Linked DNA regions of Homo sapiens: region 2 is linked to region 1. The links come from fine-mapping of genetic effects on gene expression. Tissue or cell type: whole blood. Region 1 holds a variant in brackets; the other region holds the start of a gene. All regions are shown on one strand. Distances are between the middles of the regions.

Region 1 (2,682 bases):
ACAGGTGCAGACAGGCGAGCCCACTAATTATCACCATCTGGATGAATAGACTGAAGTAAAAAAAAAAACCTATGTGATGGAATTTTCTCCTCTTTGTTTTCTTATTTCTGGTGGCTTAAATACTGTGTTTAGTTTAAATACAGACATGATCCGACCACAAACATTATGGGCGTAAAAGCCAACACAGCCGACTCCATAGAGAGACTGTTGCTTTCAGGTATGAAATAAAAATAGTGTTTGCTGCATCTCCAGGTGTTCCTGTCTCTTCTTGGCATGTGTCACCTCACTCCTCCACAGGACTTCTCTGGGAAGTTAGTTTACTCCCATTTCAGAGAGGAGTAATCGGCAGAGGAGAGTTTAAAAGGCTCAAGGTCACAGACAATAAGTGACAAAGTTGAGATGAAAAGCCACATGGCACATATTAGCTACAAGCAGGTCTAGCCTTGGTTCCTGAACCCAGAGGCAGGGCTGAGAAGAAGGACTGGGTTCATGGCCTCCTAAATAAAGGAAGTGGTAAGGGAAGTCTGGGCCACTGGGCTAGTCTTTGTTCTGATGTTGAAGGAGGAGCGTTTGAAAGGTAATCGTCTGTGTCGAGTGCATTCCACTCCTGTGCTGTGTCTCCTGGCCCTTGGATACTAGGTGTCTCTGCCCTCATGGCTAACAGGTGGGAGAGAAGGTGCTGAGTTCAGCTGCCAGGACACCCTGGGGACAAGTGTCCCTGATCCACTGGACCCCTTCAGCATTTGGGAAGATGAGATTTTCATCTTGAACATCTGGTATTGGCCGATTGGCAGGCTTTACACTGAATCTCTGGCGGTCTGCACCTGGCCTCTCCCAGTGTCTGGAAGACACTGTGTGTGGGGCTGACCTAATCCTTGGGAAATAAGTGAGTGCTAGTGGCCTGCCTGCCTTTTTTTTTTTTTTTTTTTTTTTTTTTTTTTGCAGCCTGGGATCAGAGCCAGGGCTGGTGCAGCTGTGGGGAGCTGGCAATGCCATTCTTGTCCACTAAGCACTGTGGATGCCATTGTTATCCACAGGGCACTGTGGCACTTGGAGATGAAAAAGATGAAGTCCCTGCCTCCCCCATCGAACTTCCCAGGGTAATGCTGGGCTGGAGAACACAGGGTCTGGGCCTGCTCAGGCAGGTTCTTTGGGAGCAGAGGGCAGAAGGGCCCTTTTGCTACTGGGGAAAATGGCTGAGGCAAGGTAAGGCAGAGGTGAAGCAGAGGCAATGGGCCTCTCCAGGCCTCTAGAACCAGACTCTGCAATGTCTGGAGCATGGCACCCCCCCAGGTGACTTATGGAATCTCTTCAGCTTGTTTTACATCTCTGTGACTTTTGCAGGGTTCAGATGGCATAAAGCTGTTGGGCTGGCCAATTTCTTGGGGTCTCTTTTCTTCTGTGGGCAGGGTTGGCACCTGGTAACTCCCTGTGAAAGCAGAAGCATCTCTTCTGCCACTGGTCTCTTTCGAGGTCAGGTCTTGGAGCCTTGTTAAAGGGCAAATGCCATCTGGCAACATTATTTGTTGTAAC[G/A]CCTTAGTTCCTTCTCTTTGCTTCTGTGGGTGGGGTTGGCACCAGGTAACTCCCTATGAAAGCAGAAGCATCTCTTCTGCCACTGGTCTCTTTTGAGGTCAGGTCTCGGAGCCTTGTTAAAGGGCAAATGCCATCTGGCAATGTTATTAGTTGTAATGCCTTAGTTCCTTCTACAAAGTGAATTTGCTACTTCCCTACCAGGACCCTGGGAGGGCGAGACTTGGGACAGGTCCTGTCTTAGCAAGATGGGAGATGGAGGGAAGAGAGCTGAGAAGGACCCTGGCCATGTGCCCTGTTCCTTGTGGAGAAAGGGAATTTGCTGGAGGACCTGGGCAGATGATAAGCTGGGGCTGGAAGAGTCCTCATGCCTTGTGCATCTTCCCTTGGCTAATTTTAATCTGTATCCTGTAGCTGTAATAAACCATAATTGTGAGTATAACAGCTTTTAGTGAGTTCCATGAGTCTGTCTAGTAAATTATCAAACCTATGGGTAGTCTTGAGAACCCGTCAAACCTTACAGTTGGCGTCAGAATTGAGGGTGATCTTGCGGATGACTGAGATGACTGTTTCTTCAATTACACAGGTGGGTAGAATCATTTACCACCTGAACGCCTTTTAAATGCTGGCTTATGTGCCGAAGCTAACTGACCATAGACAGAGAAACTAGATTGAACATGAGAATCTAGGAAACAGTTCTTGGAACACAGGCTTTTAGCAGCAGGCGTCACAGAAGCTCCCCATGTGATGGGCCTTGGGAGCCTCCAGTGTGGTGACTACCTGAGAAAGCTGGGCTCTGGCGGAAGCACTCACTGCTGCCAGGATGAAGGGAAATCCTAAGTGAAATATGCAAGTTATGATGACCGTAGTAGGTTCTTGTTTGAGGGAGGACTCTGATTTCCATGGTGAAATGGGCACAGCATCTGGGTGGAATAGGGGTGGAAAGATGGGTTGGTAACAGGGAGCCAGAGAAGGAACAGAAGATGAGTCAGAAGCCTGGGATTTTGATCCTAGTATTGCTGCAAACTGGTCATGACCTTGGGGAGGTTAATGATATTGTGGGTCTCCTCATTTGGTGCCTTGAATGTGGGAGCCCATATAGTTGATGGGGCTATGGAGATAGATTCAAGGAGGATCATGGAAGAGAATGTA
Region 2 (2,682 bases), 180 kb after region 1:
CTCTGGGGCACTGGCCACTCATGTTCTCTCGTGCGGGCCTTGTGCCCTCAGTGTCCTCGGCCTCCTTGGGTGCCATGTGGGGGTGACTTGGTGGGGTGTTGGGAGGGGTTCTGACTAGCAATGGGTGTATGCCTCAGAGTCAGTGTGCGCTTGTGTCAGCTCTGAGCACCTGAGGGTCCCTCCGACGGCCAGCGCCCAGAGCTGCAAATTCCGAGGCGGCTGAGCGCCTCCCTCTGAGCGCGCGCCGTGCGCTCCGGTCACCCATGTATGCCCCTCTCTCCGCCCCACATCGCCACCGCCAGGGTAGCTCCGTGCGGGCCGAGGGGACCCAGGGGGGTGTCGGCAAACGTTGGTGCGGAGGAGAGCCGGCAAGCCGGGCGGCGGCGGGTGGGAGCATGTAGGGAGGCGCCCCCTGCCCCCTCTGCCGGCCGCTCTCCCTCGCTCTAGATGTCAGCCGCGAGCTCCGAGCCAGCGAGAGCGAGCCAGAGAGGGAGCGGCGGCGGGCGGCGGGCGGCAGGGAGGAGAGGAGGCGAGGCGAGGGAGGGAGGAAGGGAAGCAGGGAGGGCGGGAGGGAGGAGAGGAGGACCCAGAGAGCGCCAGGCAGCTGGAGTTTTTGCAGCGCTTGGCCGGGCTTCAATGCACAGCAGCAGCGAGCCGCGGCGGCAGCAGGCAGCCCGGGAGCTCCGGCGGCGGCCGAGCCAGCGGCGGCCCCGCTCCCTGCCCCCTGCAAACTTTGCGAGCAGCCCGCCCGGGGGGCCGGGGGCGCGCCCGGGAGGCCCGGCTCGGCCCGCGGCCGAGCTCTCCGCCGCCGCAGCGCCAGCCGCCGCAGCCACCACCGCCGCAGCCCCGCGCCTCCCCGGGGAGCAGCCGGCGGCTCCCGCGGCCCCCCAGCCCCGGCCCCAGGGCACTGCCCGGCGAGTGTCTCGGCAAGGGTGGGGGCTGCCGCGGCGCGGCCGGCCGCGGGCTGCCGGGGGGCGGCCGCCGCTACCCAGAGAGGCGCGCAGAGGCGCCGAGAGCGCTCCCCGGCGGGTCCCCCGCGCACTCGCCGCGCCCGGGCAGCGGCCCGACCGGGCGAGCATGGGCGGCGCGGAGTGACGCCGCTGTGCCCGCTTGGCATCAAGGACATTCAGCCCGCGGGGGTGGGGACGAAGGGGGGCAGCCCGGCGTCGCCACCGCAGCCCCCGAGAGCCGCCGCCGCTGCTCGGGCTCCGGGGCTGGGTGGAGGAAAGGGGTGTTCGGAATCGATCCCCATTTTCCGACCTTTTTGTTGGACATTACGCCCACCTTGGACGCCGCAAGAGAAGCTGTCAAGCCCCGCAGGCTCTGATTCGGCGCCCTCCGCGTTCCTCGGCTGCTCCCGGCTTCCCTGTGCCTCGGTGGAGTATTTGCGTTCGGGGCTGGGGCTGGAGGAGGCAGCCACACGCGCGCACACGCACACGTTCAGAGGAGGGCGAGAGGCAGCGGCATAGGCTCCATCTGCAGTGTCAATGCGGCGCTCCCGCTGAAGGAGGGAAACGCGGCGCGTCCAGGTAAGGAGCCGGCCCGCCGGGGAGTGGGGCCGGGCGGGCGGCGAGGGCAGCAAGGTCGGACAGACCTGGGCCGACCCGGGAGTCCTCAGTGTCCCGGAGCCAGCCCGCGGCACACGCACACGCACACACGCAGGCACACACACAGATCCACACCGGCACACACGGCGCTCGCGCACCTGCCCACGTCCCACCTGGACGCCCGCGGAGGTGCAGCGGCCGGAGCAGGGATTTCCCGGGTGTGTTCTCCTCTCACGCTCCTGGACTCAGACTTCTCTTTCCCGGGACTTTCGGGGTGGGATTCTGTGTATTCCCGGCTCTGCCTCCCACCCGGGGAGGTTGAGGGAGCAATTTTTCAGCTCCCAGCCCCTTTCGTCCCTAGCTGGGCTTTAAAATGGGAGAAGTCCTGAGAGGTTTCCGGAGACCTACCCAGTGTCATCGCGGCCCCGTGGCCTTTGGACACCCTGGGATTTCAACGGGAGACAGACCCACAGATATTCGGACGCATATTTGGAGAGAGTGGTGGCCCAGCGCCCGGGGAGGAGGCCAGATAGGCGGTTGGGGCTGCAGTTCTGTAGGGCGGCGCATATGAAACAGACACTGCGTTTCCCCAGTAAGAGGCAGCACAAACGCCTTTCTGAAGCGTGGCACTGCTTCCCCGGGAATGCGCCGAGATTTCAGGCAGAAAGCGGCTTAAAGCATCGCCGCGTATGTTGCTTGTCTAGGGAAGGTACGGGGGTCAGATCCTCCTTAAAAGGTAAGACCTTATTCACAGCCTCAGTGCCTGCTTAGCAGCAAGCAGACAGGACTTGGAGACACAGGACTTGGGTCCCCTCTCACCTCCCTACCCTCCCTGGGCACATGGGGCTGCCTTCCCCGGTGCCTCCGGCTGGCGAACACCTGTCACATGCCTTTCGTGGTGTGTGTCTGAGAAAGAGAACTAGAAGGGGGAAGCACGAGGGATATAGTCCTCCAAAAGAGGAGGCTCCCCTCCCTCACGACCGTGGCGGCACTGCCCACCGGAGAAGGCAAGGCATTCGTGGGTCTGCCAGCGTCCCCCAGAGCCCAAGCCTGCTCCGATTGTAGAATCACTCCCCAGACGCCCGTGCTTTAAGGTCCTATTTCCCGAAAGCATTTTCATTCTTGTTCTCTCTGG

What was found. PIP is the estimated chance that this variant, and not a neighbour inherited with it, causes the effect.
Region 2: PLXNA4 starts here. The variant in region 1 is fine-mapped to the expression of PLXNA4 in whole blood (TOPMed, PIP above 0.99). The same link has a PIP of 0.9 or more in blood mononuclear cells.

Annotation. Positions count from the first base shown.
Region 1 is chr7:132,754,617-132,757,298 of GRCh38, reverse strand. No RefSeq gene overlaps it. Among named protein-coding and RNA genes, the nearest start is that of FLJ40288, 110 kb to the right of the region's middle. The variant G/A (reference allele first, on the strand shown) is at 1,534.
Region 2 is chr7:132,575,269-132,577,950 of GRCh38, reverse strand. PLXNA4 (plexin A4) reads left to right here and starts at 1,481. Exons shown (of 32, transcript NM_020911.2): 1 at 1,481-1,529. RefSeq lists enhancers at 1,042-2,019, 2,020-2,682.